Homo sapiens: one gene and its partner. The protein of the gene in region 1 purifies or fractionates together with the protein of each later gene. This does not show direct contact. Each region holds a gene or a part of one and is shown in the gene's direction. Other genes may lie near its edges.

Evidence for each region.
Region 2: the proteins of PRDM11 (region 1) and ACBD5 purify together in Homo sapiens (affinity purification with mass spectrometry; one large-scale study listed by BioGRID and IntAct). This does not show direct contact.

Annotation. Positions count from the first base shown.
Region 1 is NC_000011.10:45,229,518-45,234,561, forward strand, and holds part of PRDM11 (PR domain-containing protein 11), read left to right. Parts: 3' UTR 1-5,044.
Region 2 is NC_000010.11:27,234,113-27,238,668, reverse strand, and holds part of ACBD5 (acyl-CoA-binding domain-containing protein 5), read left to right. Parts: intron 1-3,456; coding exon 3,457-3,577; intron 3,578-4,556. UniProt on the Homo sapiens protein: Acyl-CoA binding protein which acts as the peroxisome receptor for pexophagy but is dispensable for aggrephagy and nonselective autophagy. Binds medium- and long-chain acyl-CoA esters.

The DNA of each region.
Region 1 (5,044 bases):
ACAATCACAATATACAATATAAGCTTTAGAAATAGCCACTTGCCTATTCCCTGGGGCAAGTAGTGGTTTAAACTAGAGGAGTCTGATCAATGCTCTTTCATTCATTTAACTACCGGTATACCTCGCAAGGGAGTTTTAAAAAATGTGCGTGAGCTGTTAAAAACTTCTGTTCATGTTCCTACATCTGATTTATGCATATTTTATATGCAGAGATCCTATCACGTGGATGCAGGTCATTTTGGGGGAGGGAGGAAGATCTGAATTATATACATGTGGTCAGTTCTGCTGAGAGCTTCATCTCTTGGTTGGCAGAGGGTGGTGTTATCTGGCCACAGGCAAGGCCCCAATGTCTTCAGCCTGCTTGGTTCAGACATTATAAAACTGTGGTGGCTTCCTTCCTTCTTGGTTTATGTTGTCTCTGAGGCCTCATGCCACCGTTGAGAACCATAGTGGAAATGTCATCAACACTGAACATGTTATAGCCCTTTCTTGGTTCCACCAGTCCCTTCATCCCCTACCAATCCCTTCCCCTTCACCTCCATGGTCTTGGTGCTAAGATAACTTTAGAATCATTGCTGCTAGTCAATAGCTTTTCATTATATAAATATATTATATATATTATATATTATTTTTGAAATATTTTTGTTTGTTTTCAACAGTGATGTAGCATGTTAAAAAACAAAAAACAAAAAAAAATGGGTTCCTCCAACTGTCCCACTGCCAGGCCTCATATGCTGCCTTCTTCAACAAATCAATGCACCCCTGCCTGGTGACATCCACCCCACCTCCCACCCCAGTTGCACACATGCTTCCCTACCCTCCTCTGAGCAAGAAGACAGTTAGCAGGAACTAGCAAGGAAAGGCTGAAAGCCTCCTTCTGAGGCTTTGAGATTCCCAGCCCCATTCCACTTCCCCACTTTAAACTGATGTCTCCCTCCATCTGCTCCTCCCATCAGGGTCAAAACCTAACTGTGGTCAAATGGGATGCTGTTGCAAAGCACCAGGTCCCACCTGGCCCAGCCCCAGCCTTGGGACTTCCTCTCCCCTCACACACGCAAACTGCTGTGTCTGGGGAGTTTTCACTGAACATTGCAGAGACTAAGAAGGGTTGAGGGCAGAGATGGCTAGCAAGACAGGGCTTGGTGAGGGCAGAAACAGTAGGTTGAGATCCTTTCTTCTAGCCAACAGTTGCCTTACACCTTACATTGGGTAATGGGTAGGGAGGAGCAGGCTAAGGCTCCCGCTCATTTGAAAACCAGGAAGAGAGAACCAGTGTCTTCCTGAGCACCTGGTCAGTTGGAGCTACTCTTTTTCCTCTCAAGAGATCATGGCCAAAATGAGCTAAAATCTTCAGCTAGAAGGGGAAAAGCTTATGGGCCAGTGCCAGTGCCTACCCTGTAGTTCCTGAGAAAGCTGAGAGCAGGTGACCCACTTCTGGCCTAGCAGAATGAGCTGCTATGCACAGCATGCAGCTGCAGGGGTCACTTCCTGAGCTGGCCACCAGACCTCGGAAAAGCTAACCTCTCAGGTGGTCTTGAAGTTAGGTTAGGGCATCCCTAAAACTCTGGGTGCTTGTGGCTTCTGCTGAATTTAGCCATGCCAGGGCTGTGGCAGACACTCTGTAGGCCACACTGCCATGGGACAGGGAATAATTTGGGTGATACACCACTGCAATTTACACGGGGTCTCTTCTCAGCTTGGATGCTCCCTGGGAGGCCCAGTGCTTCTGTCCTGTGAATTCTGCATGTGATTACCCATGATTTCTGTCATAGGCATTTCCCACTCTTCTGCTTGCTTGAGAAGGACTTGGACTGATGGGACACTCAGGGTCTAGCCCAGGGAGCATATGCTTGGCTAACCTAATCTCCCCTTGATGTGTATACAGAACTGTGGAAAAGCAGTTGGTGGATCCCAAATGTTGTTACTTCAGACAAGACAGAGCCCTTTAACTCAGCCTCTGGCTTAGGAGTGATGACTACAGGCTTAGAATGAAGTGTGTCTCTGGGGCTGAGACTTGGCATAACTGGGCTGGCTGATTAGTGACTTTCTTTGGCTCGTAGGGTTGGTGGGAAGTGAGATCAACCTTGAGGCCCAGGTTTGTGGCCAACTGTGCCAAGGTGATACCTGGCAGAGCCTGGGAGCCAGAGCCCTTATGATTAATATGATCTGCTTTTCCTTCATGGAGGACAAAGAAAAAATCCACTGCCATCTAGTATCTGTGAAACATGAGGACAGCGCAGTCAAGTCTGTAACTCTTGCCATGTCAGAATCCCCAAGTTTTGCCTGCCTGGTTGAATATGAGAGTCCAGGCATCAGAAACAGCAGCCTTATTTAATTTAATTTTTCTAATGACTGGCCTATGACACCTTGTGATGCTAGGCACATCCTCATTTCCCCATCCTCACTTGGGACTGAGAGCAGGCTCAAGTTCCAGGGTCCCTGGATGGCAAGGTTCAGTGCTGGGCCCTGGAATCTATGGCACTTGGGGGTCTCTGACCTCAGCCTCTGCCACATGTTTCCAAGTTGAGTTGTTTTGCTGAGGTGGTCCTCCCCTTGAGTTGCTTATGCCAACCCTTTAATTTAGGAAAAGTACCTTGTAATTACTTAAGGTAATGTTTAAATGTTTTCCATTCATTTGGAGGTGGTGCCAACAGGGGGGAAAGCATGCAGAAGGCTGGAAACAATAGCTGAGACCCTACTGTGGGCCCACAGCCCTGGCCCAGCCGGCACTGAGGGGCTGGTGCCATGTTACTTGATCACCTGGAGCCTGATGGGACCCAGGAGGTGGCCTGAGGGGTTGAAGTATAACTTCCCTCTTCTGGATCCCCCCTTTCATTTTCCTTCTACCCCCTCTAGGAATGGGAGTTCTAGACCTAGGTCTGCTTTTGGCTTTCAGTCTGGGTTGATTTCCAAGTCGAATTCATGCTTTTTCTTGGCCCATAGGTCCAATTTTGGCAGAAGGCATTGGACTTGTGCCCCCTCCCTGCTTCAAGAGGCAGATCTAGCCAGGCCAGGCTGAAACAGCTGAAACAGGCAGGCCAGTCCTCCTCAGACAAGAAAGGGGTTTTCAGAGGGCAGTGGTGTGCCCATTCCAGACACCAGTCTTCTGGGGAGGTGGTGCCGTGTCATGGGTTCTAGTCTGGCCTCTTCCTCAGTCCTCAGGAGGACCCAAGAGACTGGCACGGCCCTTCTCCTGCTTGGAGGGAAACCCATCTCCCACTTGGTGGGGGCCCTTCTCTTGCCATCTGTTGGTTAGGGTGCTTGAGCTGAGTGGATGGTGCTGTGATATTTTTAAGGAGCCTTTCAGGCAATGTTTGCATGTTAGCCAGAGGGAGAAAAAGTGCCCTTTTGGGAGGAAAATGGTACGCCCCTCCACTTCCATCTGGCACTCCCTTCCCCCCCACCCCCTCAAGTGGTATCACCCTGGAAATACCTATGCAATCCAGTCTCCCTAGGAGAGAGTGCATGGAAGCAGGGGTATGTGCAGTGTAGAATACAGATGCTACAGCATATATGTTGTATATATGGACATATACAGTACGTATACACACAGAGTAAGAGAGTAAATCACGTCTATATATCTATAAATAATATCCTATATATTTATACATTTCTATGTTTTAAATAGATATAAAAATAGAGTCTATAGAGCTGGGAGAGCAGTGGGAAGCCTGGCGCTGTGCTGTGCAAAGGGGAAGGGAGCACGGCCTTCGGAGAGGGAGCCGGGGAAGGCCAGCAGGCAGGGTTGGCTGGCAAGGGGGCCTCCTACCCGGAGTGTTGGAGAGGAGAGTGGCTGGGTCCCGGCTCGCTCCATGCACTTTCTCTCCTTTTCCACAGGCTTGGTCTGAGGTTGGAAGGAGATACCCCCTGAGCTCCAGCTGAGGTGCCCCCTACCTCTCCCCACCCCCACAGCCCACGCTTAGGCGGTCACTGCTGCTTGGCAGTAGGACGTGGTCTCTGACTCCTGGTGGAGGGACCACTGCACAAACTCCTTCAAAACCCTCCCGCACCAGGACTGAGCAGCGTCAGTGGCAATAGGAAAGGTCCAAACTGGATCAAGAGCTGGTCCAGGAAAGATACCGCCCCTGCCCTGTTAGATGCTTCTGCTGCCCCTAGAGGCCAAGCCCCTGAAGTGCAGCCGTCCTGGCCTCCCTCACTTGCTCAACCACTGTCAGGAGGAGAGGATGTGGGCAGCATGAGCATCGCCAGGCAGCGCTGCCCACCATCCACAGGCTTTCTGGCCAGGGCAGGGGGCATCAGCTAGCAGGAAACGGTGGGAGAGACATATCTGCACACTCATAAATTCAATGGCTACTCCAGTCCAGAAGCAGGGCTTTGGCCCAGCCCGCTCCGCGCAGCAGCTGCTGCTGGCTGTACTCAGGACAACGCTGTTCCCCCTCCCTCACAGAGGCCCCGTGGCCCCTACCCCACTCCCGCCGTAACAGGCAGGTTTAGTTCACATACACTGTTCGCATTCTGTGACTTGAGGCAGAGGCTGAGCTGGGATACCCCAAGCTCATCCACTTTCGTTGGGGAGGGCCCCTCCCTGGGTTTATCACCAGCTCCTAGCCCGGGCCGGGCGGGGATGTCTGGGGGCCACGCGGGGGCACTGGTGCAAGCTGGCAGCATGACAGAGGGCTTGTGCAGCCCTGACGGGACCCAGAAGCCCATTTGCTCGCAGTTTCCTCTCTCTGTTTTTTTCCTCCTGGAGGTAGGAGAGAGGGCCTGACCAGGCACCAGATGATGGAGCAAGGGCAGCTGCATGCTCCCTCTCTCCAGACCAGCCTTCTGCTTTTGGGGTCCGAAGGGGCATTTGCTCCCATCCTGAGCCTCCTCTGCCCCTGTCTTGCTCTTCCCCACCATCCTACAAGTACCTCAGTCTCCAGCAGGCCCACCCCTCCACCTGCAGCCCAGGGCGGGTCTGTTCTGCCAATGCCCACCTCCTTGAGCCACAGTTAGCTGCCAACTGGGTCTTGGGACACCCTCCAGTACCTGGCTCAAGAGAGACCAGGCCGGGCCGAGCCTTCTTCCCACTGCAGTGGAC
Region 2 (4,556 bases), on another chromosome or scaffold:
TTTGTAATTTCTTTCCTTCTATGGTGTTGTCTGAACCTTTTGTAATTTCAAACATTCTATTGGAGGAGGGCATATGGGGGACTGAAAGATAAGAAAGAACAAATAAAATATAAAAAAAAGCATGAACTTATTTAGGTATTGATTTTTTAAGTCCCTAATTATTAGTGTTTATAGAAAGGTATGATTCTAAGAGTTTTATGTAAGTAGTATGTTTATACTTTCTTCTAAAGCACACGTTTTTATAGTTTTTTGAAAATTGGTAAAGCTAGACTGATGTCTCTAGGCCACTATGCCTGTTGACATTATGTACCACTTATTAGGAAACCTGTATAAAGTACAGTTTGTATGTACATAACATTTAAGAAAGTATTGCAAAGTTAACATACCCTATCGGCCGGGTGCGGTGGCTCACGCCTGTAATCCCAGCACTGTGGGAGGCCGAGGCAGGCTGATGCTGAGGCGGGCTGATCACGGGGCTGGCGGATCACAAGGTCAGGAGATTGAGACCATCCTGGCTAATACGGTGAAACCCCGTCTCTACTAAAAATACAAAAAATTAGCCAGGCGTGGTCGTGGGCGCCTGTAGTCCCACCTACTCGGGAGGCTGAGGCAGGAGAATGGCGTGAACCCGGGAGGCGGAGCTTGCAGTGAGCCTAGATCACACCCCAGCCTGGGTGACAGAGCCAGACTCCGTCTCCGAAAAAATAAAATAAAATTAAATTAAATTAAATTTAAAAAAAAAGATACCCTATCAGGCCAGGCGTGGTGGCTCACACCTGTAATCCCAGCACTTTGGGAGATCGAGGCAGGCCCTGAGATCAGGAATTCCAGACCAGCCTGGCCAACATGGTGAAACCCCACTTCTACTAAAAATACAAAAATTAGCTGAGTGTAGTGGCGAGTTCCTGTAATCCCAGCTACTCGGGAGGTTGAGGCAGGAAAATCGCTTGAACTCGGGAGGCGGAGGTTGCAGTCAGCTGAGATTGCGCCATTGTACTCCAGCCTGGGTGACAAGAGCCAGACTCCAACTCAAAAAAAAAAAAAAAAGATATCCTATCAAATGGTACTTGTGTTGGACAACATCCAGTATACTGTTATCCCCTGAAACTAAGTTGATATTAATTGAAGCAGAAGTTTGTTATAATGGATTATAAATATTTTTGTAATACTACTTTTAAACCATTTGATTTGCTCTGAATCATTATGCAAAGAGCAAGATCTTGGAGTTTTTTGTTCCTTGTTTCTCAATCCTTATTTAAGGCCTGAAATAGTAATGAATCCTATGACATCTATGTTTGGTATGACCTTAACCTTTTAAAATTAAAATTCTTAGCTAATATTTCAAATACATATGAAGTACATCATGTGTGAGCACCTTGAGGACAGAAATCTTACTTGAGTGTCTTACACACAGACTACACTCAATAAATGTTCTCGGTTTTTGTATTTTTAATATCATTCACCTAAGCCAATAAACATATTTGGTTGACTTACTGAAGATATTTTGAGATTAGACTTTTGATGTTTTAAATTTAGATTTGTGTTATTTAAATAAGTGACCATTTTAAACTGTGGTTTCTCCATTTTTTTCCCTCTGCTTTATAAAGGATTGTATCATTAGAACACTATCTATTAGGTACTCCTAAATGTGCATATATTATACAGATAATTATTATAGTGATTTGAGAATTAATTATGCACTCTCGGCCAAACCTGAAACACTAGTTCTCAGTTTATCTCTGTGGTAATTTCCACAGCACAGCTTTTTTTTTTTTTTTTTTTTTGAGACCAAGTCTTGCTCAGCTGCCCAGGCTGTAGTGCAGTGGTGTGATCTTGGCTCACTGCAACCACCGTCTTCCAGGTTCAAGCAATTCTGTCTCAGCCTCCTGAGTAGCTGGGATTACATGCACCCACCGTCATGCCCGGCTAATTTTTGTATTTTAGTAGAGACGGGGTTTCATCATGTTGGCCAGGCTGGTCTTAAACTCCTGACCTCCGGTGATCCGCCTGCCTCGGCCTCCCAAAGTGCTAGGATTACAGGTGTGAGCCACTGTGCCCGGCCCACAGCTCTTATAAACTGCTAGCTTATGCAATTTACAAATTTTAAAAAATATCTTGTTACAATTGTTATTTTTAAAATTTTGTTATAAAGGTAATATACACTGATGTTTAAAACTTTTTTAAAAACACATAAGTGAAAAGGAAAATAATTTGTATACTTACTATTCAGAGATAGTCTTTAAACATTTTATGTTTATCTTTCTACTGTACTTTTTATGTATATAAATATTTTGCCAAAAGGTATCATATTACATATGTTGTTTTTAAACTTATTTTTCTAAATTTATAGTAGATCATGGAACTTATACCATTATTTATATTTTTCTACAATATAACTTTTTAGGGCTACAGTTATAAATTGTCCTGTTATATTTATATATCATAATTATTTAAACAGCTATTATAAAACATTAACATTCCAATTTTTCAGTTATTGAGAATACTGCAACTTATAGCACTTGCTTATACAATTTGATTTTTTTTTTTTTTTTTTTGAGACAGGGTCTTTCTCTGTCACCGAGGCTGTAGTGCAGTGGTGTGATCACAGCTCACTGCATCCTTGACCTCCCCAGGCTCAGGAGATCCTCTCTGCTTAGGCTCCTGAGTAGCTGGGACTACAGGGTGTGCCATCACACCCAGCTAATTTTTGTTTTTATTTGTAGAGACAGGGTTTTGCTATGTTGCCCAGGCTGGCCTTGAACTCCTGGGGTCAGGTGATCCACCCACCTCAGCCTCACAAAGTGCTGGGATTACAGACATGAGCCACCACAACTGGCCAATTTAAAAATTTTAAACATGAGAAAAACTATAGATATGCTAGAAACATATATGAAGAATTATCCTCAAATTGATGTCTCCAAAATTACAGAGGTAGGAAGTGAGAAATCTATTTTATCTTAGATTAATTCTTTTTCTACCATAGTGTATACTCTTTGGCTTTAGCCCCAAATTCCTTATCTACTGAGAATTTGAAATTTGGCAGAGTATACATATAACTTTTTCACTTACACTAGTCAGTTTTGATTTGTCATAAGCTTTGAATAAAAGTACCTTATTACGATTGCTTAATAATAGTTATTCTATATTTTAGTATGTTTTTAAAGAGACATTTGCAGGTTATTTTGGTTATATCTACAGCATGTCTATTCATGTATTCTTTTATTTATTGAACCATCTTAGGCATTGCTATTAAAGTTTAAAATCTCAGAGTGTTTTGAAATCAAAGAAGCAAGCAACTAACAGAACCATAACTTTTGTTTCTATAAGCTAGAAATAAATCATTATCTAAAGTATTAATGCAATATAAAATCACTATTAGTATAGCTAAGCTAATTTATAACCTGATTATCAGTTGTATTCCCCAGGTGATTTGTATTTAATGTGTGTTTCCAACAGGTTCATTCCAGCCAACAAATGAAATGATGCTTAAATTTTATAGCTTCTATAAGCAGGCAACTGAAGGACCCTGTAAACTTTCAAGGCCTGGATTTTGGGATCCTATTGGAAGATATAAATGGTAATTTTTTGTGTAGAGCTATGCAAGAATTTAAATTTTAATGACATAATTATCATATGGCTATTACTTAAGTGGTTATATATTATTCTGTGCAGAAAGTGTCCTAGGTATTGGGTACAATTTTTATCCTCCAGGTTTTCTTTTTTGTTTGTTTGTTTTTGAGATGGAGTCTCACTCTGTTGCCCAGGCTGGAGTGCAGTGGCAGGATCTCGGCTCACTGCAGCCTCTGCCTCCTGGGTTCAAGTGATTCTCCTGCCTCATCTTCCTGAGTAGGTGGGATTACAGGTGCGCGCCACCACACCCAGCTAATTTTTGTATTTTTAGTAGAGACAGGGTTTCACTATGTTGGCCACGCTGGTCTCGAACTGCTGGGTTCAGGTGGTCCGCCCACCTCGGCCTCCCGAAGTGCTGGGATTACAGGCGTGAGCCACCATGCCCAGCCTTCCCAGGTGCTCTTAGTACAATTTTACACAAATAGGAAAATCTTGGGGAGGAGAGGAAAACAGTAAAACCAAAAGGGATAGGTGCATCAAAGATAAAGAAGCATTATCAGTTAATCTTTACTTTCATGGAGTTTTCCCTTTTTTTTTTTTTTTTTTTAAGGCAAGAGCAACTCCCAACCTAAGTTAAATAAACAAACTTTTAACTGCCTCTTTTGCCTGCAAGAAAAATAATGGCTTTTCCTTGTTTGTACTGAGCCTTGAAGATAATAAATAACTAGGAATATGACTCAGGTACTGCCATGCTAACTTTTTATCTAAGCTGTCACTTCTGACCTACTGTAATTGAATAGAAATTTGATCTTTTATATACTTAAAAGAATTCTAAACTAAAAAGTATACTTAAATGAATTATAAACTATAAACTAAAAGAATTATAGATACAGGTACCTGTACTCATCCGTGCTGTTTTCCCAGTTGACTAACAGTTGATACTCTAATACAATTGAAGCCTTCACAAATGTCTGAGAAAAGTCAAT